3 separate regions of the Homo sapiens genome follow, and regions 1 and 2 are each linked to region 3. Evidence: fine-mapped expression QTL. A gene starts in region 3. Each other region holds a variant in brackets. All regions are shown on one strand. Distances are between the middles of the regions.

Region 1 (8,000 bases), 86 kb after region 3:
GCTGGAGTGCAGTGGCATGGTCTCGGCTCACTGCAACCTCCACCTCCCGGGTTCAAGCGATTCTCCTGTCTCAGCCTCCCAAGTAGCTGTGATTCTGTGATTCTGCGTGCCACCACGCCTGGCTAATTTTTTTTTATTTTCAGTAGAGACGGGGTTTGACCATGTTGGCCAGGCTAGTCTGGAACTCCTGACCTTGTGATCTGCCCACCTTGGCCTCCCAAAGCGCTGGGATTACAGGCATGAGCCACTGCACCCGGCCACACGGAAGGCATCATACTTTGAGAGCCAGACTGCCTGATTCAAATGTCTGCTCCTAGCTATGTGGCGTTTGGCAAGTTACTTATCCATGTCTCAGTTTCTTCTCCTGTAACATGAGACATAGAATTGATGGATTAGATGAAATAATAAAATATTTAGTACAGTGCCTGGCATACAATAAGTGCTCAATAAATGTTAACGGCTATTTTAAATTCTATTCATTGTAATGGCAGGTAATAAGGGATGACTAGTAATACATTTATCAAGAAATCTGCAGAATTTAGATTAAGCGTACTTAAGATAACTCTTTTAAGAGATAAAGAGGAATCCATGCATTTCTTAAATAGGTAGATTCAAAACTGTAACGATGTCTTTTATTTCTAAATATGTTAGATCAGTGTTACCATCCAATGCAAAATCTCATAAGGATTTTTTTAAGCCTTAAAATTAGTTCCAAGTCAATCTAGAAGGATAAGTATTTAGTAATACTAAGGGAAATTTTAGAAAAATATTTTGAGAATTTTTACTTACCAGTTTTAGTATGATATACGATATACAGTAGTACATACCATAAAGTTAAGAGAACTTAAACCCTATGGTATAAGCATAGGAATAGACAAGCATATCATTCAAGCATATCATTCAGGCATAGTCCTGAAATAGTTTGATGTATATTTGAAATTTAGTTCATGATAAAGGTGGTGGTATAGCTATGTGAGAAAGAGAAACTGTTCATTAATTGTGACAACTCTTCTCCAGTCATCTGGAAATAATCTTAGACCTAATACATTCTGCAAGGCTCATAAACATGTAAAAATGAACATTCATAAGCATGGAAAAAAAATAGGTGAATGTTAATATACTGCAGTGAGGAAGACCTTTCTAAGGATGATTGAAAAGTAAGAAAGCATAAAGTAAAAATTGTCGGGTTAAAATTAGTCATTTTTATACTGCAAAATATCTAAAGTTACAAACAAATTATGGAATGGGGGAAGTATCTGTAACACAAAATGCTAATATGAATACATAATATTGTGAATTATAAAACAAGAAAAAGATACGCAGTCTAATAAGAAATATGTGTCAAGGACTCTCACGCAGTTCTTAAAAAAACAAATATAGATGGCCAGCAGACTTTTAAAGCAGTACTCAACCTTATTAGTACTCAAAGGCATGCAAATGCAGAGATACTTTTGAGAGTTCGACAAAGATTAAAAGTTTGACAGTTTCTAGTGTTTTAGGGACGTGAGGACACATATACTCTCAAATAATATTTTGATGTAACAGTAAGTTGGGGCCGGGCTCAGTGGCTCATGCCTGTAATCCCAGCACTTTGGGAAGCCAAGGCGGGTGGATCACCTGAGGTTATGAATTTGACACCAGCCTGGCCAACATGTCAAACCACATCTCTACCAAAAACACAAAAATTAGCCAGGCATGGTGGCAGGTGCTTGTAGTCCCAGCTACTTGGGTACTTGGGAGGTTTAGGAGTATTACTTGAACCTGGGAGGCAGAGGTTTCAGTGAGCTGAGATTTTGCCACTTCACTTTATCCGGGGAAACAGAGCAAGACTCTGTCTCAAAAAAAAAAAAAAAAAAAAAAAGGTTGATACAGTCTTACTATAGGGCAGACTGGCAATATATATAAAGTTAAAATTGTATATATAGTCTTTAACAATTCAAATTTTATATTTTTGTCACAGTGTAGTAACTTGTTAACAAAAGATGTAGGTAACAGGTTTTCTCAGCATTTTTTAAATAATGAAACATTAGAAACATGTTAAATCTAAAAAGCTATTAAAAAGGATGATAGTTTACAAGATTTCCATATTAAATTTTTACATAACTGTATACATATATATATATATATTTTCCCTGTTTCTAAAATTTATAATAGTGGTTAACTCCAGGTGATGAGATTTCAAATAATTTTTATCTATACTGTTTGGGTTTTCTGCATGGATTTATCTTTATGATCTTTTTCATTTTAAATTTCTTGTTTTAAAGTATGTTTTTATTCATGAGACTATAAGGATTATATATATGAAGAGTTTTTGTTGTTGTTGGTTTTGTTTTTGTTTTTTTTTTGTTTGTTTTGTTTTTGAGATGGAGTTTCACTCTGTCACCCAGGCTGGAGTACAGTGGCATGATCTTGGCTCACTGCAACCTCCGCCTCCCGGGTTCAAGCGATTCTCCAGCCTCAGCCTCCTGAGTAGCTGCGATCACAGGTGTGCACCACCATGCCCAGCTGATTTTCATATTTTTAGTAGAGATGGAGTTTCACCATGTTGGCCAGGCTGGTCTCGAACTCCTGACCTTGTGATCCACCCGCCTCGGCCTCCCAAAGTACTGGGATTACAGGCATGAGCGACCGTGCCCGGCCTGGCCTTTTTTTGTTTGTTTCTGTTGAGATGGAGTCTCGCTCTGTCACCCAGAGGTGGAGTGCAATGGCGCGGTCTCAGTTCACTGCAACCTCTGCCTCCTGGGTTCAAGCAATTCTCTTGCCTCAGCCTCCTGAATAGTTGAGATTACTGGCATGCGCCACCAGGCCTGGGGGTTTCACCATGTTGTCTTGGCTGGTCTCAAACTCCTGACCTAAGGTTTTCCACCCACTTCGGCATCCCAAAGTGCTGGGATTACAGGTGTGAGCTACTGTGCCCGGCCTATCTGGAAGCTCTTAACCCTGTAAAATGGGCATCCTTTTAAGTCAGAGCATATAGATTTACTTCTTTTTAAAAGTTCTGAGATTTTTTGTTTTGTTTTGTTTTGTTTGGGTTCCTTAATTGACTAAACCAGTGCTGGTCTAATAGATAATTGGGTTATTTGATTTTTTTTAATCTTGTCAAAAATGTTAATAGTGATTATACTTGAACCTGTATCAAGTATTTTATAAGATAAATTCCTGTGGACTGCTGTGTCCAAACTAGTCTCTGAACACACTTTTACTACATTCTAGTCTAAGTAGTTTTTTGTTTTGTTTTGTTTTGTTTTTTGAGATGGAGTCTTGCTCTGTCTCCAGGCTGGAGTGCAATGGTGCAATTTCGGCTCACTGCAACCTCTGCCTTTCGAGTTCAAGCGATTCTCCTGCCTCAGCCTCCCAAGTAGCTGGGATTACAGGCGCCAGCCACCATGCCCAGCTAATTTTTTGTATTTTAGTAGAGACGGGGTTTCACCATGTTGTCCAGGATGGTCTCGAACTCCTGACCTCACGATCTGCCCTCCTCGGCCTCCCAAAGTGCTGGGATTACAGGCGTGTGCCATTGCGCCCGGTCCTCTAATCTAAATAGTTTTAAGAGGATTACTTTGTAATAATGATATAGAAGGAGTTTAGGCCTCTGTGGCAGTAAAATAAATTGAAGCTCATTGAAGACTACTTGATCTCTCCTATATTTGAATAGGAAAGTAAAAATCAGAAGCAAGTAGAACAACTGAGATACTCTAGTAGTAAGGCAATACTGATCTATAACAAAGGTTTTTTTGTTTTTTTGTTTTTTTGTGATCCTTGAAGGACAAGGAAGAAATGATAAACATTTTAAAAAGGACTTGGTAATTGCATGAGAAACGAAAGGATAGGAGTCAAATATAATTCCAAAATTTTTAGCTTAGGGTCACTAGTAGAATGATAATGACAAGAACAAAAATAACGTGAGAAGGAAAGTGTTTTAGAAGAAAAGATACTGGATACACTTCTAAACATGTTTTAGTTCAAGGTGACATTGAGATCAACTGGCAGTGTCCAAGAGGCAATTGGAGATACGAGTTTACAGTTCAAGTGTAAGGATAAGAATGCAGAACCAATTTGGGATCATCAGCTTAATAGGTAAATTCTTGAGGATGGTTGAGTGATTCGGTCAGATGGCTAAAAGTTAGCTATTTTCAATAGCTCAGTGTTGTAAAATCAAAGAAGGGAAGCACTGGCAGTCATTGTCAGTGAAACTGAGAGAAGTCAAAGAAAATTACTAATTGAAAAGCTGTTCAATTTACAAAAAAAAAAGTAATTGGTCACCTAAGAGCAAAGGTTGCATGCTGGTGGGCTTTGGGTACCACAATTTTATTTTTAAGACATTTCAAGGCCAGGCGTGGTGGCTCATGCCTGTAACCCCAGCACTTTGGGAGGCCGAGGCAGGCAAATCACCTGAGGTCAGGAGTTCAAGACCAGCCTGGCCAAGATGATGAAACCCCGTCTCTACTAAAAACACACACACAAAAAATTAGCTGGGCGTGAC[G/A]GCAGGTGCCTGTAATCCCAGCTACTTGGGAGGCTGAGACAGGAGAATTGCTTGAACCTGGGAGGGGGAGGTTGCAGTGAGCTGAGACCATGCCAGTTGCACACTAGCCTGGGCGACAAGAGTGAAACTCCATCTCAAAAAAAAAAAAAGACATTTGAACTGGTTAGCAACAACCTAAATGGGAAATTTTCCCATGATAACTTTGATTTCTGACCTATTTGGAAAAATCTGAAAATCTGTCTGTGTTGGACGAGTGTTTTCACATGGCAACAATTCACCTGTTGCTGATCAGTGGTCGCCTCTTTTAGACAGCCTGTGCTCTCCAGTTCAAGTTCTACAGTGTCTGGTCCATACTTTTACTTTGTTTGCCTAGCCGTCTCAGTCAGCATTTGGATTTTCAAGACAAATCTATTAAGGCAAATCCACATTGACTTATAATGAATTTTTTTTAATTTCTACAATTTATTTGAATTCATTATCTGAGTCTCCAGTCTTTGCATGTTTTTTATTTTTTAGAGGCTGCCTCCATTCGAAACATTTTCTCAGGGACCTACGTTGCAGTTCACTCTTCGTTGGACAGGAGAGACCAATGATAAATCTACGGCTCCTATTGCCAAACCTCTTGCCACTAGAAATTCAGAGAGTCTCCATCAGGAAAACAAGCCTGGTTCAGTTAAACCTACTCAAACTATTGGTAAGAAAACATTGCAATCAAAATAATAAAATAATGGTTTGCAGAGTTAGGTCTTGTGCTTTAGATTAATTCATTTGTGTTTTGCTTTATGTGATTCTTCTTTTTTTTTTTTTGAGATGGAGTCTTGCTCTGTTGCCCAGGCAGGAGTGCAGTAGCGTGATTTCGGCTCACTGCAACCTCTGCCTTGTGGGTTCAGATGATTCTCCTGACTCAGCCTCCCGAGTAGCTGTGACTACAGGCGCATGCCACCACACCTGGCTAATTTTTTGTAGTTTTAGTAGAGACAGGGTTGGCCGAGCGCAGTGGCTCAACACCTGTAATCTCAGCATTTGGGAGACCGAGGCGGGCGGATCACAAGGTCAGGAGATGGAGATCATCCTGGCTAACACGGTGAAACACCGTCCCTACTAAAAATACAAAAAAATTTAGCCAGGTGTGGTGGCGGGCACCTGTAGTCCCAGCTACTTGGGAGGCTGAGGCATGAGAATGGCGTGAACCCAGAAGGTGGAGGTTGCAGCCGAGATTGCACCACTGCACTCCAGCCTGGGAGACAGAGCAATACTCCATCTCAAAAAAAATAAATAAAAGTAAGTCAATAAATTAAAAAAGTAGAGACGAGGTTTCACCATGTTAGCCAGGATGGTCTCCATCTTCTGACCTCATGATCTGCCCGCCTCAGTCTCTCAAAGTGCTGGGATTACAGGTGAGAGCCACCTCTGCTGGCCTCTATGTGATTAGCCTTTCAGAATATTATCTGGCTTATTGGGTAGGTTATGAATCATGGTAAATTAAGGTTCTCCTATATTAAGTGTAAAGTCTTGTGTTGAAGTAGTAGTAAAAATTCTTTATCCAGAACCTTTGTGCCAAGTGTGCCTAGAAATTTGAATTGAAAAAAAAAATTGAAGCGTGATATGGTACATAGTATAGATATCATATATAACATCTTGAAGTGGGGTCCTCATGGTAAGTTAGAGCAAGTTTTTCCACTAAACAAATTTGCCAGAAACTTACAAGAAAACTATTGGTTTTCAGATTAGCTTTTAAGATTTTGGAATCACAACTACAAAGAGCTTTGGAACTAAGTTGTTTTTTTTTGTTTTTTTTGTTTTTTTGTTTTTTGAGACGAAGTCTCACTCTGTTGCCCAGACTGGAGTGCAGTGGCTTAATCTCGGCTCACTGCACGCTCTGCCTCCCTGGTTCATGCCATTCTCCTGCCTCAGCCTCCTGAGTAGCTGGCATTACAGGCGCCTGCCACCACGACCAGCTAATTTTTTTTTTTTTTTTTGTATTTTTAGTAGAGACGGGGTTTCACCTTGTTAGCCAGGATGGTCTCGATCTCCTGACCTTGTGATCCGCCCGCCTTGGCCTCCCAAAGTGCTGGGATTACAGGCACGAGCCACTGTGCCCAGCCCAGGAACTATGTTTTTTATAACTCACATATAAGTTTTTCTGTTTGTTTGTTTTGTTTGTTGTTTTCTTTTTTGAGATGGAGTCTCGCCCAGGCTGGAGTGCAGTGGTGCGATCTCAGCTCACTGCAAGCTCCACCTCCTGGGTTCATGCCAATTTCCTGCCTCAGCCTCCCGAGTAGCTGGGACTACAGGCGCCGGCCACCATGCCCGGCTAATTTTTTTTTTTTTTTTTTTTTTTTTGGATTTTTAGTAGAGATGGGGTTTCACCGTGTTAGCCAGGATAGTCTCAATCTCCTGACCTCATGGTCTGCCTGCCTCGGCCTCCCAAAGTGCTGAGATTACAGGCGTGACCCACCAGGCCCAGACTAACTTTTTTTGTATTTTTAGTAGAGATGGGGTTTCACCGTGTTAGCCAGGATGGTCTGGACCTCCTGACGTCGTGCTCTGCTCACCTGGGCCTCCCAAAGTGCTGAGAATTACAGGTGTGAGCCACCGCGCCCAGGCTGCAGTGCGGTGACGTGATCTCGGCTCAGCACAACCTCCGCCTCCCGGTTTGAAGCAATTCTCCTGCCTCAGCCTCCCGAGTAGCTGACATTACAGGCACACAACCACTAGGCCTGGCTAATTTTTGTATTTTTAGTAGAGACAGGGTTTCATCATGTTGGCCAGGCTTGTCTCAAACTACTGATGTCAGGAGATCCACCCATCTCGGCCTCCCAAAGTACTGGGATTACAGGCATGAGCCATCGCGCCCAGCCAGTTTTTAAGAGGAAAAAACATTTACAAATAGAGTTAACTTTCTGCTGAGTTTAAGGCCCAAGTTGCAGTGTTCTATCATTTTTATTTTACTTTTTTTTTTGAGACAGGGTTTCTCTCTCTCACCCTGGCTGGAGTGCAGTGGTGCCATCTCAGCTCACTGAAACCACCGCCTCCCAGGCTCAAGCGATCCTCCCACCTTAGCCCTCCATATAGATGGGACTACAGGCTCGTGCCACCACGCCCTGTTAATTTTTGTATTTTTCGGTAGAGATGGGATTTTGCCATCACCCATGCTGGTCTCAAACTCCTGAGCTCAAGCAATCTACCTACCTTAGCATCCCAAAGTACTGGGACTACAGGCTTGAGCCATTGCGCCTGGCCAAGTTCTGTCATTTTTGTGTCTGTCCAGTAGGTACATTGTCCTTGACCTGAGAGAGCACTCATGTGTCTTTATCTGCCTGTTTAAAGAAGGCAGAAGGCGTAAGTTGTCCTCCTTGACCACTCATGTACACTCATTGTGTGCAGGTGACAGTAATGGTCAGATTAAAGAGATATAAGAAATGGGGCCGGGCGCAGTGGCTGACATCTGTAATTCCAGCACTTTGGGAGACCAGGGTGGGTGGATTGCTTGAAGCCCAGGAGTTCAAGACCAGCC
Region 2 (10,698 bases), 160 kb after region 3:
GGCTCTAGGCCGGGCACCGCGGCTCACGCCTGTAATCCCAGAACTTTGGGAGGGCAAGGTGGGAGGATCGCTTGAGGCCAGGAGTTCGAGATCAGCCTGGGAAACATAATGAGACCCGCCCCCCAACCGCCAACCCCGTCTCTTAAAAAAAAGAAAAAGAAAAGAAAGAAAGAAATCATGGATCTAGGACATGATTAGCCATGGATAGTAAAATCATTAGGGGAAAGGTGGATGAGGAATGGTTTTGTGTGGCTGGGCACAGTGGCTCACACCCGTAATTCCAGCACTTTGGGAGGCTCAGGCAGGCGGATCACCCGAGGTCAAGAGTTCGAGACTAGCCTGGCCAACATGGTGAAACCCCATCTCTACTAAAAATACAAAAAATTAGCCAGGTGTGGTGGCATGTGCCTGTAGTGCCAGCTAACTTGGGAGGCTGAGGCAGGAGAATTGTTTGAACCTGGGAGGCAGGGGTTGCAGCGAGTCAAGATCGCGCCACTGCACTCCAGCCTGGGTGACAGAACAAGACTCTGTGTCAAAAAAAAAAAAAAAAAGAAAACAAAAGAAAAAAAAAGGAATGTTTTAGGGGAGGCCTGTTCTGCTCCCATCTGAGCCCTGGGTCAACTTTAGCGTCCTAGGCTGGACATGATGTGGCTCCCATTGGGAGCAGTAGTAGTAGGTTGGTGAGGGCCTGGAAGGAGACGTATCTCTCTGAGTTAAGGAGGGCACCTCAGAGGATCAGGCACATGAACAGAGACCTGAAGGAGAAAAAGCGGAGGATACACATAGAGATCTGGGGGAAGAAGGTTCCAGACAGGAGGAACAGCGGGTGCCAAGACTCTGGGGTGGGAACTAGCATGGAGAAGTAGAGATCAGCTAGGAGGCTGATGTGGCTGGACGGAAGTGAGAGAGAGAGGAGAGGAGGTGCAATCAGAGATATATCAAGGAAAGAAAACATGGGGGGCTGGGCACGGTGGCTCACGCTTGTAATCCCATCACTTTGGGAGGCCAAGGCGGGCGGATCACCCGAGGTCAGCAGTTAGAGACCAGCCCGGCCAACAAGGCGGAACACCGTCTCTATTAAAAATACAAAAATTAGTGGGGCATGGTGGTACATGTAATCCCAGCTACTCGGGAGGCTGAGGCAGGAGAAACGCTTGAGCCTGGGAGGCAGAGGCTGCAGTGAGCCGAGATCGCGCCACTTTGCAATCCAGCCTGGGCAACAAAGCGAGACTCCGTCTCAAAAAAAAAAAAAAAAAAGAAAGAAAGAAAAAGGAAAAATGGGGAATTTCATTGGAAGGCCATGCCAAAACACAAACAAAAAAGAAACAAATAAAGGAAAAATGGGGAAGGATTCCTCAGGAAGTTAAAGAGTTGACAATCAATTTCAGGGACCCCGGGATTTGAGTCTAGCTCCTTCGTGGGCAAGGGGACGTGCTGACCAATGCACACCTGTGCCTGCCAGGCTCCTTGTCAGTTACCTGTTGCCAGTTAAGCTGTCTAACAAAGGCCAGGCACAGTGGCTCATGCCTGTAATCCCAGCACTTTGAGAGGCCAGGCAGGTGGATCACTTGAGGCCACAAGTTTGAGACCAACCTGGCCAACATGGCAAAACCTCGTCTCTACTAAAAATACAAAAATTAGTCAGTCGTGGTGGCGGGTGTCCGTAATCCCAGCTACTCAGGAGGCCGAGGCAGGAGAATCGCTTGAACCCGGGAGGGAGGCAGAGGCTGCAGTGAGCCAAGATTGCACCACTACATTCCAGCCTGGGCCACAAAGTGAGACTGAGCCAAAAAAAAAAAAAAAAAAAAAAAAAGCTGCCTAACAACGCCCAAATCCAGCAGCTTAGGACAATCAGCATTAATTTTGGCTTCGCAGGCTACAGGGCAGTTTTTCTGCTCCTGGCTGGGCTCACCCACCAGCGTCTATGGGTCCAAGAGTCACACTGTATTTATTCAGGCTGGGTCTTTTCGTATATTTGGGCCCGGCTGGCTATAGGCTGGTCTAGGACAACAGGATTCTTCCCTCATCCTCCAGCAGGCTAGCTCGGGCTTGGTCACCTGACAGGGGCAGGGTTTCCAGACGTCGACCAGAAAGATGTACCACCTCTTCAGGCCTAGATTGGGAAGTGACTTCACTTCTGCTGCAATCCATTGATTGGCCAAAGGAGATCACGAGACCAACCCAGATTCAAGGGGTGTGGAAGTAGGCTCCACCTCCCAGTGGGAGGAGCTACCTAGGCAAAGAGTATAGATGGTGGGCGGTAGAATTGGGTCCGTGAAGCCAACTTGACCAGCCCCATGATTCCTTTGGGGCTTTTGATAATCATTCCCTGCCCCTCCCTGGGTACCCCAAGGCATTCTATGGTCCTCGACCCTAGCTTTGGCCCCTGTAGAAGTTCTTTTTTTTTGAGACGGAGTCTCGCTTTGTCACCCAGGCTGGAGTGCAGTGGCGCGATCTCGGCTCACTGCAAGCTCCTCCTCCCGGGTTCACGCCATTCTCCTGCCTCAGTCTCCCGAACACCTGGGACTACAGGCGCCCACCACCACGCCCGGCTAATTTTTTGTATTTTTAGTAGAGACGGGGTTTCACTGTGTTAGCCAGGATGGTCTCGATCTCCTGTCCTCGTGATCCGCCCGTCTCGGCCTCCCAAAGTGCTGGATTACAGGCATGAGCCACCGCGCCCGGCCCTCTGTAGAAGTTCTTTCTGCCCAGGTTTGCACTCTCTCTAAGCTCCCACAGGAGCTGTGGCTTGGGTTGTTCAAGGCCCCAAATTCCCGATTGGACTTCCTTTCTTCAGCTCTGCATTGGGGTGTGACCAGGACTGAAGTATTTTATTGAAATCATTGGCTCTCCTGATAGCAAACAGAGAGTTGGTGTCAGTAAGGCAGAGGAGAGGTTAGTCTGTAGTGTGCTATGGAGTAAGGGAGCAATGGAAATCGGGAGCTTAGTTTGAACACACTCAGTGTCCCCTTGTGCAGTGTCCAACCTGCCCAACCGTACCAGCCCACCCTGACTGAGGGACTAAAGAGTGGAGGAAAGGAAGGGGAAAGGGATTTCACTGACAGCTGGAGCCTTAGTCCTCGGGCCAAATGAAGGACCTTCCCAGAACAGAGTGACCCAGAAGGAAGCTGTGGCCCAACCACCAAGATGGGTAACCCCGACAGGCGCAACCTGCCCTCTTGTCAATCAAGGCTGGACCAGGTGGTGTGGGGAAGGGGTGGAGGACTAAGAGAGGGGGCAAAGAGGAGGGTAGGAAGGTCCTGGCCTAAACGACCCAGTTAGTTTCGCCATCACCCCCTACCCCCATCCTGTATCCCAGGGAAGTATAGTGCAGCTGGGTTCTTGGTTGCCATGGCGACTGACAAAAAAAAAAAGACTTGAGGGGAGGAAAACACCCCGGGGCATGAAGAAGCAATTTGCTCTCAGGTCTGGGAGTCAGCACCGGAATCAGAATGTCCTAAGGAGGAAAGAAAACTGAGCGAGCCGGGCTTGGGTAGGTGGCAAACCTTCCCAAGGCCCCCTGCCAGCCATCCTAAGAGAGAGAGGGTAGGGGCGACCCCAGCTCTGTGTGGGAGGCGCCAACTCTAAGCCCCCACCCCCGAGGCTGCCCCTCCCACCCGAAGCGTTTAGCACCCAGGGTCTGGGGTGGGGGGCGAGGCGGGGGCGGGGCTTCCCAACGGATTGCTTTTTTTTTTTTTTTTTTTTTAATTTCCAGTTCCGCCTTGGGACGAGTCCCTGGCTGGGGGAACCGCATCAGGCCTGACACCCATCCCAGTCCCCCCTAAACCCAGAACGAGATCCAACCTCACTCCCCAGCCCCTTCCCGACCTCGCCGCTCAGGCTGTGATGGGAAGGTCCCTGGGAGTGGGGAGGAGGGCAAATTTAAACCCGGAGGGGATCCTGTAGCCCAGTTCCCTAAACCTCCAGGAAAGCGGAGAAAGTCACATTGTGGTGGCAGCTGCGGGTTTTTTTTTTTTTTAATCTGTTAATAAAACGCAAGTGAATCAAATCCGCCCTAAGGGAAGGTGGGGGGGCGCGGCGAGGCAGAGGCCATGGTGTTTGCAGAAGTTGGAAATTTAATAAGAAGGAAAAATAAAAATAGCCACTGTGCTGGAGAGAGAGAGAGAGAGAGAGAGAGAGAGAGAGAGAGAGAGAGAGAGAGAGAGAGAGTTGGGAGAAGCAGGCAAGTGTGGGACTCCTGGCTGGGTGGAAACGTGCAGAGGGGGCTGGGGAAGGCGAGGGCACCGCACCACTAGTCCGGAGGAGCAAGGGAGACACTGCTGGGGATACCAGGAGGGGAGTCTTTGGGGTGTCACCAGAACAGTCCAGTTCCTTGGCAGATTTTTCACCAGCAATGAGCTGGGCACAGAGGTTGGGGTTTGGCCCTCTAAACACCTGGGTGTAGAGGTCCAGCCTCTGGTTACTTGGTCTTCACAGCGCCCCCCACCTTCTGAGCTACTCAAGAGATGGGGGACAGTAGCAGTACTGCCAAGAACAGTTGTGCAAGTTGCGCACTGCACAAGCATGCCAGACAGAGGCTAGAGCAGAAGCTAACATCATCTGTTCCCCTCACCACACATTGCATCTGCCCAGAGGAAGAGGTACCTTTTATTTTATTTTATTTTATTTTATTTATTTTATTTTTTGAGATGGAGTCTCACTGTTATTGCCTGGGCTGGAGTGCAATGGCACGATCTCAGCTCACTGAAACCTCTGCCTCCCAGGTTCCAGAAATTCTCCTGCCTCAGCCTCCCCAGTAGCTGAGATTACAGGCACCCGCCACCACGCCCAGCTAATTTTTGTATTTTTAATAGAGACGAGGTTTCACCATGTTGGCCAGGCTGGTCTCGAACTCCTGACCTCAGGTGAGCTGCCCACCTCAGCCTCCCAAAGTGTTGGGATTACAGGCATGAGCCACGGCACCCAGCAAGGAAGGGGTACCTTTTAAAGATCTACACAAGGCCGGGCACCATGGCTCATGCCTGTAATCCCAGCACTTTGGGAGGCCAAGACGGAAGGATCGCCCAGGACCTGAAGACCAGCCTAAGCAGCATAGGGAGACCACCATCTCTACAATAAATAAATAATGACAAAATAAACATCCTGGCCGGGCGTTGTGGCTCACGCCTGTAATCCCACTGCTTTGAGAGGCCTAGGCAGGCAGATTGCTTGAGCTCAGGAGTTCAAGACCAGCTTGGGCAACATGGTGAATCCCTGTCTCTATGAAAAATACAAAAATTACCCAGGCATGGTGGCGCACAACTGTGGTCCCAGCTACTCAGGGGGCTGAGGTGGGAGGATAGCTGGAGTGGAGGCTGCAGTGAGCTGTGATCACGCCACTGCACACCAGCCTGTGTGACAGAGTGAGATCCAGCCTCAAAAAAAAAAGAAAAGTCCACACAAAGTTGACAGTGAACCAGCTGCATCTCTGAACACATCCAGTGATACCCCCTCCACCCC[C/G]CTCCAGGAAACCCAAGATTGCTGACAGGCCCAGCTACAGCAGCTTTGAGCTGGCTGCAGCCTGTGGGGTCCTCTGGGAGCAGCTGAATGGAATTTGTTCATGCTTTCACTCAACAAGTATTTACTGGGTGTTTATTTCATGCCAGGTGCCATGCTGGGCAGTGAATGAATGAACCTTGCTCTGGGGTTAACACTCCAGTGGGATGAACAGGCAAACCCCACAAGCACTGCATACGGTATGCAAAATGGGGTGCATGCTATGGAGGGACATACAGCTGGGAGGGGTGGGGGCGGGCAGGGGCCCTGGGTGCAATTTTTACAAAGTGACCTCACTGAGGAGGTGACATTGCAGCAAACCCAGAAGCAGGCAAGGAGGAGTCACGTGGCTGGCTGAGGGAACAGCATTTTAGGCAGGGGGAACAGCCTGTGCAAAGCACTGAGACCTTGTTTTGTGAATTGAGCGCCTTGAAATATGGGTTGCTTGGCCCTAGTTAAGGTTCTGAAAGAGCCTTTAATTTTTTTTCCCCTAGACCTGGGTGTGGCGGCTCATGCCTGTGATCCTAACTACTCAAGAGGCTGAGGTGGGAGGATCACTTAAGTCCAGAAGGTTGAGGCTGCAATGAGCCATGATCATACCACACGGCACTTCAGCCTGGGTGACAGAGCAAGACTTTGTCTCAAAAACAAAAAACAAAAAAATCCAATTCCGGCCAGGCGCAGTGGCTCATGCCTGTAATCCTAGCACTTTGGGAGGCCGAGGCAGCTGGATCACAAGGTCAGGAGTTCGAGACCAGCCTGGCCAAGATGGTGAAACCCCGTCTCTACTAAAAATAAAAAAAAATTAGCTGGGTGTGGTGGCATGTGCCTGTAGTCCCAGCTACTCAGGAGGCTGAGGCAGGAGAATTCCTTGAACCTGGGAGGCGGAGGTTGCAGTGAGCCGAGATCGTGCACTGCACTCTAGCCTGGGCGACAGAGCAAGACTCCATCTCAAAAAAAAAAAAAAAAAATCCAATTCCAACCTATACAAGGCAGCAGCTGTGAGGTGACACAAGTATGAACCCCATTAAGTCCCCCCAAAAGCCAAGAATCTTGGATTTCCTTCACAAGTGAATGACCCCCCCAATCTTAAAGGAAAATCATTCTAGCAGCAAATCCTAGACAGGAGTTACTATCAGCCAGATATTGCCATCTGCCTTAACTGGTTTAATCCTGACAGTGAACCCCAGTGATGTAGAAAATGTTACCACCATTTTTTTTTTTTTAATACAGAGTCTCGCTCTGTCCCCCAGGCTGGAGTGTGGTAGTACAATCTCGGTTCACTGCAACTTCTGACTCCTGGGTTCAGGTGATTCTCCTGCTTCAGCCTTCCAAGTAGCTGGCATTACAGGGGCACGCCACCACACCTGGCTAATTTTTATATTTTTAGTAGAGATGGAGTTTTGCCATGTTGGCCAGGCTGGTCTCGAAGTCCTGACCTCAGGTGATCTGCCCGCCTCAGCCTCCCAAAGTGCTGGGATTACAGGCGTGAGCCACCGTGCCCGGCTGTTATCACCATTTTACAGGTGGAGAAACCAAGACACAGAGCAATGCAGTGGCTCCCATGTGTGGATAAGAAGTAGCTTGTAGATTTGAACCCAGGACACCTTTCTGTGCATTGAGCCAGGCCGATCTGCACCCAGGCACCTGCCCAGGTGGATGCAGGGCCTGTGAGATTCTTCCAAGGCCTCCCATTTTGATGGGGTCCCCAGGCCTCCAGGCCTGCACTGGAGCTGGTCTGCTTCCAGGTGGAGCCAACGGAGGGTCCTGGTGCGGGGGAGTCGGCGTTGGCGGGTGATTGATGGTTTAATATCTCGCGCTGCGACCTGGGCCCCTCCTCTCCCACGCCTCTGTGGGTGGCCCCCAGTGAGAGGCGGAGATGGGATAATTCGGTTACCAAAAAGAGAATGAAAATTCCAGAGAGAGAAAGAGACAGAGAAAGAAGTGCAGACCAGGGAGTGCGCTGGGAGCTGATTTGGCAGGGCTGGGCTTGGATGGGAGGGAGGAGGCCGACTCTCAAATCCGGAATCCCTCTGGGGGCCTGGGGACTCATAGGTCCCAGCCGTCTTCAACTCCCATCTGACTTCCTGTCTTGAGAACAGAGACAGCAGATGTGACAAGTGAGAGGTCACAGGCAGGGGCAAGGCCTCAGAGGAGAGGGAAGCATGTGGCCTCCGCCTGGGACAACTGCTAGCAGGTGAGGCCAAGGGGAGGTAGGGACTAGTGGAGTTGGGGTGGAGGGAATGGGAGACTCCAAGTTCCCAGCTCAGAGGCTTCTGGTCATCCTTGACTGGAGTCCTCTCTCTCTTTTTTTTTTTAGATGGAGTCTTACTCTGTCGCCCAGGCTAGAGTGCAATGGCATAGTCTTGGCTCACTGCAACCTCCGCCTCCCGGGTTCGAGCAAGTCTGCTGTCTCAGCCTCCCGAGTAGCTGGGACTAGAGGCGTGCAGCACCACGCCTGGCTATTTTTTGTATTTTTGGTACAGACGGGGTTTCACTGTGTTGGCCAGGCTGGTCTCGAACTCCTGACCTCAAGTGATTCTCCCACCTTGGCCTCCCAAAGTGCTGGGATTACAGGCGTGAGCCACCGCGCCCCGCTGGAGTTCTCTCTTTTTTTCTCTTTCCATCCACGTTCAAACCTCGGACTTCATTTCTTCCCCACCTCCCCGGCCCTCACCTGGTCCAGCCCAGCATCCCTCACCTGGACTGTGCAGTTCCCTCTACCCTTGCTCAGGTCTCCAGCCTGGCCCTGAAGCCTGTTCCCTCCGCAGCCTCCAGAGGGCGCGAGCGAACACCTGATCAGGCCACGCCCCCTCCTCCCGCTCAGAACCCGGAAGGCTCCCAACTTGTGTTAATTTCCCATGGTTGCCGTCACAAGCTAGCGTTTTTTTAACGACGCAAATTATCCTACAGCTCTAGAGGTCAGAGATGTGGTTCGGGTCTCACCTGCCTAAGACCAAGATGTCAGCAGGCTGCAGTCCTTTCTTGGAGGTTTTAGGGGACGATCTATTTCTTGCTCATTTAGGGGTGCAAGATTCAGTTCCTCGGGATTGTAGAACTGAGGCCCCTGTTTTCTTGCTGGTTGTCTGTTCCCCGTTTCTAGAAGTTGCCTGCATTCCTTGGCTCGTGGGCCCTCCCTCCATTTTCAAAGCCAGCAATGACGAGTCAAGTCCTTCTCATATGACAGCCTTCAACTCCCCTCTGCCGCCCCCTTGCACTTTAAGGACTTGTGTGATTAGATGATCCAAGGTCATTTCCCTGTCTGAAGGTCCTTAATTACCTAATCAGCAAAGTCCCTTTTGTTGCATGAGGTAGCAATTCACTAACCTTGCTTCTCAGGGCCTGGCTGTGTCCAAAGGACTCTTTCTCCTTTAGACACTTTTAAGTGTTTCACCTGTCCTCTGCCTCTCCCTGGGCACCTGCTCCCTGCTCAGCCTGCCTCTCCCGCAATTCAAGCCAGTCATATGCTTGACACTCCTCCAGGAAGCCTCCCTGAAGTACCCATATTTATCAACCCGCTGGAGCAGTTACCAGCCCCTTTCTCCTATCCTCCCCAGGCCACGAGATCTTGAAAGTTTAGGATGAGGAAGTAGACATCTTGGGAAGGAGGGCATTATTCTCCTTACCAACTGCCTCACTCAGAGCAAAACTCCAGTCCTCACGGAGGCCAGAAAACCCAGCTTTCTCCAAGCAGATGGGCCTCCTTACTGTTCTCCAAACTCACCAAAGACATCCTGCCTCAGGGCCTTTGCACAGGCTGTTCCCTCTGCCTGAGTCATCCTCCCCCAGATATCCACATGGCTCCTCCCTCACCTCCTCCAGGTCTCCCTTCACTTGTGCCCCTCCCCAGGGAAGCCTTCTCTGATGCACACACACCCAATTTACAACATCCACAGACTCTTATTGCTGCTTTTTTTTTTTTTTTTTGAGACAGGGTCTCGCTGTGTTGCTCAGGCTGGAGTGCAGTGGTGTGCTCTCAGCTCACTGCAACCTCCACCTCCGAGTTCAAGTGATTCTCCTGCCTCAGTCTACTCAGTAGCTGGGATTACAGGCATGCTCCATGACACCTGGCTAATTTTTGTATTTTTAGTAGAGACGGGGTTTTGCCATGCTGACCAGGCTGGTTTTGAACTCCTAGCCTCAAGTGATCCGCCCGCCTCGGCCTACCAAAGTGCTGGGATTACAGGCCTGAGGCTGCTGTATTTTCTCCATTGCACTGGCTACTTTTGGCTACACCACAGAATATTCACTCCTTGTTCATCTTGTCATCGCCCAGGTCTCCCACTGGAAAGTCAGCTCCAAAAGGGAAGTTCCTCCACACTGTTCTCTCCTGGCTCTGTATGCTGCCCCCTTCCCTGGCCCTTGGCATACAGCAGGTGCTCAATAAGTGTTAGGGCTGGGCGCAGTGGCTCACGCCTGTAACTACCAGCACTTTGAGAGGCCGAGCGGACAGATTTGAGCCCAGGAGTTCAAGACCAGCCTGGCCAACATGGCAAAACCCCGTCTTTACTAAAAATACAAAAATTATCCAGGTGTGGTGATGCATGCCTGTAATCCCAACTACTCGAGAGGCTGAGAAATGAGAATTGCTTAAACCTGGGAGGCAGAGGCTGCAGTGAGCAGTGATCATGCCACTGCACTCCAGCATGGGCATCAGAGCGAGACTGTGTTTCAAAAAATAATAATAAGTGTTTGTTGAGTGAATGGATGGCAGGCAGGCAGGGCCCCAGCCCAGAGGAGGATGGGGACCCAGTGGAAGGTGGGAGCGGCAGGTGGAGAGGGATTGGTGTGGAGATGTTAGAGAAAAAGACCTTCTAGAACAATCCTGGGGGTCAGGTGGTCCCTGTGATGAAATGAACCAGCATTGTGTGAATTCAGTCAAGGGCTGATCTCTCATGATCTCTATAACGTGCTTTTCACAGGGAAACGTGTCCCCCCTGCCCCACAATCCCCTTGATAAAATCTTAGCTTTATGACTTTGTTCTCTGTTCATCTCAGATAACAGATGTTCCTGGAGTTGCCTTAGTCACAGGGCAGCTTGGCTTCAATTCAAAACAAGGAATGTCCAGACCCAGGCTGGGGCCTTGATTTAGACTTCAATCCTATTTCCTTCTGCCTCTCCTCCATCCCCACCAGCATCATGTTCTGGGGGTCTGGGTAGTGCAGGGGCCCCTTCCTTCTTGCTTTCCTCTCCTTTCCTTT
Region 3 (10,698 bases):
TGGTCTTGAACTCCCGACCTCGAGTGATCCACCCACCTTGGCCTCCCAAAGTGCTGGGATTATAGGCATGAGCCACCGTGCCCGGCCCATCAATCCATATTTCTACTCAACATTATCCCTTTAGCTATATCCCTATTCACCGAGGCTGGTGGTGTGTGCCTGTAATCCCAGCTACTTGGGAGGCTGATCAGGAGGTAGAGGTTACAGTCAGCCGAGATCATGTCACTGCACTCCAGCCTGGGTGACGGAGCGAGACTCCATCTCAAAAAAGAAAAAAAAAAAAAAGTTTGCTCTTATAATGAATATAAAGCAGTCCTACACCTGGTTTTTTTTTATTGTTTGTTTTTTTGAGATGGAGTCTCGCTCTGTCGCCCAGGCTGAAGTGCAGTGGCGCAACCTAGGCTCACTGCAACCTCCGCCTCCCGGATTCAAGCAGTTTTCCTGCCTCAGCCTCCCCAGTAGCTGGGATTACAGGTACGTGCTACCGTGCCTGGCTAATTTTTGTATTTTTAGTAGAGATGGGGTTCCACCATGTTGACCAGGCTGATCTCCAACTCCCAACCTCAAGTAATCCACCCGCCTCAGCCTCCCAAAGTGCTAGGATTACAGGCATGAGCTACCGCGCTCGGCCCCTACACCTTGTTTTAATCTTTATTTAACTAATTACTGATAAGGCTGATGTCTTTTCATAAGTTTAACTACAAGTGATGTTTCCCCTTTGTGACTTTCACGTTCACATGATTTGCCCATTTTTCTTTTTAGTTTTCATTTTCTTCTCGATTTACAGTTCTTTATATATGTGTATATGTAGTTCTAATTATGTGTTGTAAATATTTTCTCACATTTTGTGGCTTGTATTTTCACATTATTTGTAGTGTCTTTTTTGCACAGAAAAAAATTTTTTTTTTTTTTGAGACAGGGTCTCTATCACCCAGACTGAAGTGCAATGGCGCCATCATGGCTCACTACAGCTTCCACCTCCCAGGTTCAACTGATCCTCCCACCTCAACCTCCAGAGTAGCTGGGACTACAGGTGTGCACCACCATGCCCAGCTAATTTTTGTATTTTTTGTAGAGATGGGGTTTGCCATGTTGCCTAGGCTGGTCTTGAACTCCTGGGCTCAAGCGATCTGCCTGTCTCACACGTGAGCCGCCACGCCCCTCCAGAAATTTGTATTTTGAACACAATCAAATAAATCAGTCTTTTCTCTCATGGTTTGTGCTTTCACAGTCTAATTTAGCTTTAAGAAATCTTTTGGCTGGGCACACTGGCTCAAGTCTGTAATTCCCAAAACTCTGGTACGGCAAGGCAGGAGGATCACTTGAGCCCAGGAGTTCAAGACCAGCCTGGGCAACATAAGGAGACCCTATCTCTACAAAAAATAAGAAAATTAGCCAGCCATCTGGCACAAGCCTGTAGTCCTACCTACTTGGGAGGCTGAGGCAGGAGGATCATCTGAGCCTAGAAGTTCGAGGCTGCAATGAGTGCTCGCACCATTGCACTCCAGCCTGGGCAAGAGTGAGTGTATTATTTGGAAAAAAAAAAATCTATTTTTGACATAATATGGTCTTGGCTCATTTTGAGTGAGCAATCTACTCATAGGACCTCTTCCAAAAACAATAGCTTAGCCAAGGTTCATATATTGTTTGTTCGGCTGTCTTTTGTCTTTTTAAATCTAAGCTCAAAACTTCTAGTCTTTTTTTTTTTTTTTTTTTTTGAGATGGAGTTTCGCTCTTGTCTCCCAGGCTGGGAGTGCAATGGCACAATCTTGGCTCACTGCAACCTCCACCTCCTGGGTTCAAGCAATTCTCCTGCCTCAGCCCCTGAGTAGCTAGGATTACAGGCACCCAACACCACACCCGGCTAATTTTTGTATTTTTAGTAGAGATGGGGGTTTCACCATGTTGGCCAGGCTGGTCTCGAACTCCTGACCACAGGTGATCTGCCTGCCTCAGCCTCCCAAAGTGCTGGTATTACAGCATGAGCCACCATGCCCAACCAAAACTTCTAGTCTTATAAACATGTGATCTTGTTATTGGTTCTTTCTGAATCCTGATTCCGTCATCCAACATATTAGCTATTCTCCCCCACTGGAAAATTGGTCTGACATAATTTTTCTTTATTCAAACCTTCCATGCATTTACAAGATGAAAAAATCTTGCAGTACACCTCTTTCCAAGTGGACAGACAATAGATAAACAAGCAGTAACTTTTCAATTCTCTACACTCATCACATTCACTCTCCTCTATCTTGCTCACCAAGAGGCAAATCTCTTGCTGAAGTCCTGATACACACTATGTCTCTGACAATCTCTGATCTACAAACCCAGTAGAAAAAAAAAAGAAAGAAAACGACAAGAGAGAAAGAGGAGGGGAAAAGTAAGTTCAGTTTGGCCAGGACTACAGTCTTAGTGGAGTAATGCTACTCCCAATGCTACTCCTGTTCAGAAATATCTATCTAATGAACGTTTCTGGAATTCTTTTAATTTTTTTAAAAAACTGATGTTGGCCGGGCGTGGTGGCTCATGCCTGTAATTCCAGCACTTTGGGAGGCCGAGGCGGGTGGATCACCAGGTCAGGAGTTCAAGACCAGCCTGGTCAAGATGGTGAAACGCTGTCTCTACAAAAATTAGCCTGGCGTGGTTGTGGGCACCTGTAATCCCAGCTACTCAGGAGGCTGAGGCAGATAACTGCTTGAACCCAGGAAGCGGAGGTTGCAGTGAGCCGAGATCGCACCACTGCACTCCAGCCTGGGCAATAAGAGTGAAACTCCATCTCAAAAAAAAAAAAAATTTGATGTTAAGCTCATCATTCTAGAACTGATTTTAAATTTGTGAAGGAATGGGAGGCTGAGGCAGGAGAATCACTTGAACCCAGGAGGCGGAGGTTGCGGTGAGCGTGAGCAGAGACTGTGCAACTGCACTCCAGCCTGGGTGACACAGAGAGACTCTATTTCAATTAATCAACCAATCAATCAATTTGTGAAGGGATTAAAAAGTAAGGCTAGGACCGAGCATGATGCCTCATGCCTGTAATCATAGCACTCGCTTTGGGAGGCCGATGCTGGTGGATTGCTTGAGGCCAGGAGTTCGAGACCAGCCTAGCCAACATGGCAAAACCCAGTCTCTACTAAAAGTAGCTGGGTGCGGTGCCATACGCCTGTAATCCCAGTTACTGAGGAGGATGAGACTTGAGAATCACTAGAACCCGGAAGGCAGTGGTTGCAGTGAGCCAAGATCGCGCCACTGCACTCCAGCCTGGGTGACAGAGCAAGACTCTTGTCTCAAAAACAAAAATAAAAAAAGTAAGGCTGGGCCCGGTGGCTCACAAACACTTGTAATCCCAGCATTTTGGGCGTGGGCAACATGCCGAAACCCTGTCTCTACAAAAAACACAAAAGCTAGCCAGCCATACTGGCACACACCTGTAGTCCCAGCTACTCCAGAGGCTGAGGTGGGAGGATGGCTTCAGCTCAGGAGGTGGAAGCTACACTGAGCCATGATGGCACCACTGCACTTCAGCCTGGGTGAAAGGCGAGCCCCTGCCTCAAAAAAAAGTAATGAAATTATTAATTATTGGCCGGGCACTGTGGTTCACACCTGTAAGCCCAGCACTTTGAGAGGCCAAGGTGGGTGGATCCCTTGAGATCAGCCTGGGCAATGTGGCAAAACCCAGTCTCTACCAAAAAATTAGCCAGGCATGGTGGCATGCATCTATGGTCCCAGCTACCCAGGAGGCTGAGGTAGGAGAATCGCTTGAGCCTGGAGGGCAGAGGTTGCAGTGAGCAGAGATCACACCATTCACACCACTGCACTCCAACCTGGGTGACAGAGTGAGATGCCATCTCACCAAAAAACAAAAAAGAAAAAAAGAAAGAAATTATTAATTACACACTTACTTGAACATAATTGATAAAGTCTTCCTTGAAAAGGGTTCTTCTCTGGATTTTGTACTCTAGATCGGAAGCCTTCTTAATGATAGCCCTGAGGAGAAAGCCATTTAAACTTCACTTGAAAACTGCAAAAATTAAACGTTTAAGTTTATTTTGAATATATTTAAAACATGTTTTTCAAAATACGAAATTCCTAGAGTTATCTTTCATAAGAAAGTATTATCGGCCGGACACAGTGGCTCATGCCTGGAATCCCAGCACTTTGGGAGGCTGAGGCGGGTAGATCAAGAGGTCAAGAGACTGAGACCACCCTGGTCAACATGGTAAAACTGCATCTCTACTAAAAATACAAAAATTAGCTGGGCGTGGTGGTGCGTGCCTGTAGTCCCAGCTACTCGGGAGACTGAGGCAGGAAAATTGCTTGAACCTGGAAGGCGGAGGTTGCAGTAAGCCGAGATCGCGCCACTGCCCTCTGGCCTGGCGACAGAGCAAGACTCCATCTCAAAAAAAAAAAGTATTCTCTTACACAATTACTTTTGTGTTCTTAAGGGTTCATTTTTAAACTTTCAGGAAAATCATCTTAATCAACTCCCAAAACCAATGACATTCCCACCAGCAAAGCAAATACAATTAAGAACTTTATACCATTTATGTATGGTGTTTTTTTTGTTTGTTTTTTTCTCGCTCTGTCGCCCAGGCTGGAGTGCAGTGGCATGATCTTGGCTCACTACAACCTCGGCCTCCCGAGTTCAAGCGATTCTCCTGCCTCAGACTCCCGAGTAGCTGGGACTACAGGCGCTCACCACCACGCTCAGCTAATTTTTGTATTTTTAGTAGAGACGGGGTTTCACCATATTGGCCAGGCTGGTCTCGAACTCCTGACCTCGTGATCCACCCACCTCGGCCTCCCAAAGTGCTGGGATTACAGGCGTGAGCCACAGCGCCTGGCTGGTATTAATAAAGACTTCTTTTACTCCAAGTTCAGGTCACTTAAATTTTAATAATAAATTTCTTTCCGAAATTCCTCTTATTTCTGAGTTCTCAACATGTAAATTTTTTTAAAAATCTAAATTGCGTCTGCCTTAAAAGACTTATTACTACGAAGGACTTACGGGAGAAGATTCAGAGTCCTTAGCTAAGGAATGAACATATGACAAATATATATTAGGAGAATTTAATGCAAGATGTGCAAGACAGGTGTCTTTAGTAATGGTAACATTAACCTTAACTGAGCACTTTCTAAGCGTCCACACTGCTTTGTTTTGTGTTTCATTAACGAATGCTTACTTTGAAGCTCTGAGTCACATTACTACATTCAGACGTTGCAAAACAAAGCAACAGTCACAGAAACCATTAAAAACTATTAAACATAATTTTAACACGCTACTGAATGTCTACCATGTGCCAGGCGCTGTAGTTAGGCTCTGGAGTAGCATATGAAACTGATTTCAATGGTCCCCACCTTCAAGTCTAGTTAGGAATTTATCCACTCCCCCTGGGCTCTCACAGCACTCTGTTCCCATCCCTACAGCAGTACAAGGTACTACAATCAACTTACAGTACACTGTTATCAAAATATTTAATTTGTCTGTCTCCCCCACCACACTCTGCCCAATTAGCTCCTAATGAGCAGGAATCCTGGGTTTATCACCTTTACAGCCCTAAGACCCGGCTCCATGAAGGGCTGTCAAAACGTCTGATGGGTAAGTAGACGGACGGATTACCTTGCAACGAATGAAAAATTAATTCTGGACATCACCGAAAACGAGAAATGGGCTTCCACCACGTTAGGAAAAGTAAACACAGGTCGAGCGTCCCCACATCTAGCCCCTGCCACACACTCCCAACCTCCCCTCAGGCCGCCTCAGCTCTTCCCTCTCCCCAACCCTCTCTCACTTAATCTCCGCATGACTGAACAGTCCAATGCGCTCCAGCTGTTCCAATTCCGGGAGCCGATCTTCTATGCGTTCCTGAATTATCTCTGCCATGAGGTCCGAGGTCTACAACCCCGCGGGTAGCTTCTCAACAGCGAACACGAGCAGGAAGCTCCCGGTTTCAGGTTCGGAGACCCAGCCCTACCACCGACGCGTCCGGACGTAACGTGCTCCCTAGGTCCCGCCTTTTCCGCTTCCGCCACCTCCTACTTAGGGGAAGGCCCTTCGGCTTCTACAGCCACCGTCCCCTCCCTGTGGCCGATTGTGGGATTGCAGCGAGAACCCGCCCTGGTCTTGGGCAGGACGACTCTAGCGGACAGGAGTTGAGGGGCGGGGCTAGACGGGAGGGAGGGGTTAAGTGCGCGCGCCGCTAGACTTGGACAGCCATCAGGAAAAGCGCCTCCAGGTGTAGAGAGGTGGGCTGCTCAAGCCTGAAAGGGACACGAGATGCATTTTCTTCAGAATATTGTCTCCCATCCCACGTCCTGACTTCCCAACACCAAGAACAACAACAAAAAAAAAAGCAAAGGAGGAGGATATTGTACAATTAAACATTTTTGAAAGCCGGTCGCGGTGGCTCATGCCTGTAATCCCAGCAGTTTAGGAGGCCGAGGCGGGCAGATCACCTGAAGTCAGGAGTTCGAGACCATCCTGGCTAACATGATGAAACCCCGTTTCTACTAAAAATGCAAAAAAATTAACTGGGCGTGCTGGCACGCGCCTGTAATCCCAGCTACTCGGGAGGCTGAGGCAGGAGAATCGCTTGAACCTGGGAGGCCGAGATCGCGCCATTGCACTCCAGCTTGGGCAACAAGAGTGAAACTCCGTCTCTAAATAAATAAATAAATAAAATAGAATTGTTTATTATTTAAATCAATATCCTGTCTTTGTAAGCAATAGCTTTCAAAATATATGTCCCTAGGTGAATATCAGACACTATAAATTCTTTTTAGAAAAGGAGATTTTTGTATTGAAAAGTTTGAGAATTACCAAAATAAATCACTAAGGTATAGACACCCTCCTTAAACCATTGCCCAAGCAACTTAGCATTTCTAAGAGAAACACCAGGCAACACAGCTTGGAGGCAATATTGCTGGTATAGTTAGTAAACCTCAAATGATAACTACATGGTTCAGTTCTTTTTTAGTTCTGGATATAAAAAAGCCAAAGCAGCAGTTCTTGCTAAATCTGCTTATTTCAACATTCACATTAGCACCTGGATCCTGTGTGTGATTTATGAAAGGAGAATGGGCTCAGCAAAACCATGTTCCACCTCTGTGCCTTGCATTTCTTTCTTTCCTTTCACATTTTACCCACTCATCTCAGAACTGAGACGAGGGTTGGCTTGTGCTACACCATTTCTTGAATCCTTCAGCTGTAAGACATGTCAGAAGTGGAAGGAAATCACGAATGTAAGACAAAGATAGAATTTATTTGTAAAAGTAAAATCTCTGGGGCTGTGTTAACAGTAAGAGTGGAGATGACACTAGATAGTAAACTCCATATGGGCAGGGAATTTTTTCCTTTTTGACTGGCTAGATACTCTACAGCTTATAGCAGTGCCTACCATATAATAAGTACTCAGTTAATAAATGCATGACACTAAGAAAAGGTACTTGCTAAATTTCTTTAGGTACAAGGAAGTCAGCAAGTTATGACAGACTGTAATCATTTCAAAGTAAATTTGATAGAGACCTTCATAAATTAACCATGATTTTTATTTTATTTTATTTTATTTATTTATTTAGAGACAGAGTCTCGCTCTGTCACCAGGCTGGAGTGCAGTGGCGCGATCTCGGCTCACCACAACCTCGACTCCCCTGGTTCAAAGGATTCTCCTGCCTCAGCCGCCCGAGTAGCTGGGACTACAGGCACGTGCCACCACACCCAATTAATTTTTGTGTTTTTCGTACATACAGGTTTTCATCATGTTGGCCAGGATGGTCTCAATCTCCTGACCTCATGATCCACCCGCCTCAGCATCCCAAAGTGCTGGGACTCCAGGCGTGAGCCAACGCGCCCGCCCAATTTTTAAATCAAACTAACTATAAATACGCTCCTCCTTTATATTGTTTTGTTTTGTTTTGTTGTTCTTTTTAAGACCGAGCCTCGCTGGCCAGGCACTGTGGCTCACACCTGTCATCACAGCACTTTGGGAGGCCGAGGCCACGGATAACCTGAGGTCAGGAATTCAAGACCAGCGTGGCCAACATGGAGAAACCCCGTCTCCACTAAAAATACAAAAAAATTAGCTGGGCCTGGTGGCCTCTCTCTGTTGCCTAATGGGGAGTGCAGTGGTGCGCTCTCGGCTCACTGCAACCTCCACCTCCTGGGTTCAAGCGATCCCCCGAGTAGCTGGGATGACAGGCGTGAGCCACCATGCCCGGCCTAATTACGTTTTTGTTTTGTTTTGAGACAGGGTCTTACTATATTACCCAGGCTGGAGTGCAGTGGTGTGACCACAGCTCACTGCAGCCTCAACCTCCTGAGCTCCAGCAATGCTCCCACCCCCGCCTCCCAAGTAGCTGGGACTACATGTGTGCCCCACCGCACCTGGCTAATTTTCCTTTTTTCTTTTTTGTAGAGACAGGGGTCTCACTATGTTGCCGAGGATGGTGTTTTTGTTTTTGTAAATAGAGACAGGGTCTCACTGTATTGTCACCATGGTCTTGAACTCCTGGCCTCAAGTGATCATCTTGTTTCCCCTTCTCAAAATTCTGGGATTACAGGCATAAGCCAGCACGCCCAGCGATCCTCCCTTATTTTGAAATTTAGCTTTTTTTTTTTTGAGATGGAGTTTTGCTCTTGTTGCCCAGGCTGGAGTGTAGTGGCGTGATCTTGGCTCACTGCAACCTCAGCCTCCCAGATTCTAGTGATTCTCCTGCCTCAGCCTCCCGAGTAGCTGGGATTACAGGCGCCCACCACCACGACCAGCTAATTATTGTCTTTTTAGTAGAGACGGAGTTTCACTATGTTGGCTAAGCTGGTCTCGAACTCCTAACCTCAGGTGATCCGCCCACCTCGGCCTCCCAAAGTGCTGGGATTACAGGCATGAGCCACCACGCCTGGCCAAAATTTAGCGTTTATGTATATATTCTTGTTGTTGTTGTTGTTGTTGTTGTTGAGACGGAGTGTCAGTTTGTTGCCCAGGCTGGAGGGCAGTGGCATGATCTCGGCTCACTGCAACCCCCGCCTTCCCGTTTAAACGATTCTCCTGCCTCAGCCACCTGAGTAGCTGGGACTACAGGCGCACGCCACCACGCCCAGCTAATTTTTGTATTTTTGGTAGAGACGGGGTTTCACCATGTTGGCCAGGCTGGTCTGGAACTCCTGACCTTGTGATCGATCCACCCGCCTCCACCTCCCAAAGTGCTGGGATGTGAGCCACCCCGCCCTGCCTAGCTTTTATATTTACCTTCAAGAATTATTATGATGGGCCAGGCGCAGTGGCTCACATCTGTAATCCCAGCACTTTGGGAGGCCGAGGTGGGTGGATCACAAGGTCAGGAGTTCGAGACCAGCCTGGCCAACATGGTGAAACCTCCGTCTCTACCAAAAATACAAAAATTAGCCGGGCATGGTGGTGCGTGCCTGTAGTCCCAGCTACTCGGGAGGCTGAGGCAGGAGAATCGCTTGAACCCGGGAGATGGAGGTTGCAGTGAGCCAAGATCACGCCACTGCACTCCAGCCTGGGTGACAGACCGACACTCTGTCCCAAAAAAGAAAGAATTATTATGATGTTTTGGAGGCCAAGGCAGGTGGATCACCTGAGGTCAGGAGTTCACAACCAGCATGGCCAACATGGTGAAATACCCCCCCACTAAAAATACAAAAATTAGCTAGACATGGTGGCGGGAATCCCAGCTACTCTGGAGGCTGAGGCAGGAAAATTGCTAGAACCTGGGTGGCGGAAGTTGTAGTGAGCCATGATCACACCACTACACTCCAGCCTGGGAGACAGAGCGAGACTCCGTCTCAAAAAAAAAAAAAAATACTTGGGAGGCTAAAGCACAAGAATCGCTTGAACCCGGGAGGCAGAGACTGCAGTGAGTCGAGATCGTGCCACTACACTCCAGCCTGGGCAACAGAATGAGAATCTGTCTCAAAAAAAAAAAGAATTATTATGACAGAAATGACAAAGCCTTCTTTTCACTTCTGCATCTCATAATAATAGCTGTCATTGGCCCGGCGCAGTGGCTCACGCCTGTAATCCCAGCACTTTGGGAGGCCAAGGTTGGCAGATCACAATGTCAGAAGTTCAAGACCAGCATGGCCAGCATGGTGAAACCCCATGACTCTGTCTCAAAAAAAAAAAAAAAAGCTGTCATTATGTAGGGCTTATTGTGTGCCCAGCTACTATGTGCACTGTTCTAAGTCCTTTATGTTTTTTTGTTTTTTTTTTTGTGAGCCGAAGTTTCGCTCTTGTTGCCCAGGCTGGAGCACAATGGTATGATCTCAGCTCACTGCAACCTCGGCCTCCCAGGTTCAAGTGATTCTCCTGCCTCAGCCTCCTGAGTAGCTGAGACTACAGGCGCCCGCCACCACGCCTGGCTAATTTTTGTATATTTAGTACAGACGGGGTTTCACCATGTTGACCAGGCTGGTCTTGAACTTCTGACCTCAGGTGATCCACCTGCCTCGGCCTCCCAAAGTACTGGGATTACAGGCATAAGCCACCATGCCTGGCCAAAGTCCTTTATGTATTAACTCACCTAATAGCATCACATAAATATTTTGAAATATCAACTCATAGAAGGAGCCCTCAAAAAGAGAGATAGTACCTGAGATTGCACCACTGCACTCCCACCCAGGCAACAAGGCGAGACTCCCCTCAAAAAAAAAAAAAAAAAAAAAACTACCTACTGGAGAAA

Which allele goes with the higher level. Alleles are on the strand shown, and positions count from the first base shown. SD is a standard deviation of normalised expression in the study named. Not every link is listed here.
For the expression in esophagus muscle of the gene that starts at base 5,962 in region 3, C is the high allele of the variant in region 2 and G is the other (small effect, 0.13 SD a copy in GTEx).

What was found.
Region 1: its variant is fine-mapped to the expression of UTP6 in whole blood (INTERVAL, PIP above 0.99).
Region 2: its variant is fine-mapped to the expression of UTP6 in esophagus muscle (GTEx, PIP 0.94).

Annotation. Positions count from the first base shown.
Region 1 is chr17:31,983,321-31,991,320 of GRCh38, forward strand. SUZ12 (SUZ12 polycomb repressive complex 2 subunit) reads left to right here. Exons shown (of 16, transcript NM_015355.4): 10 at 5,000-5,177. Among named protein-coding and RNA genes, the nearest start is that of LRRC37B, 20 kb to the right of the region's middle. The variant G/A (reference allele first, on the strand shown) is at 4,484.
Region 2 is chr17:32,058,793-32,069,490 of GRCh38, forward strand. No RefSeq gene overlaps it. Among named protein-coding and RNA genes, the nearest start is that of VILMIR, 19 kb to the right of the region's middle. The variant C/G (reference allele first, on the strand shown) is at 5,461.
Region 3 is chr17:31,895,747-31,906,444 of GRCh38, forward strand. UTP6 (UTP6 small subunit processome component) reads right to left here and starts at 5,962. Exons shown (of 19, transcript NM_018428.3): 1 at 5,790-5,962; 2 at 3,900-3,984. The coding sequence starts at 5,881. RefSeq lists enhancers at 5,437-5,586, 5,630-6,221, 5,907-5,956.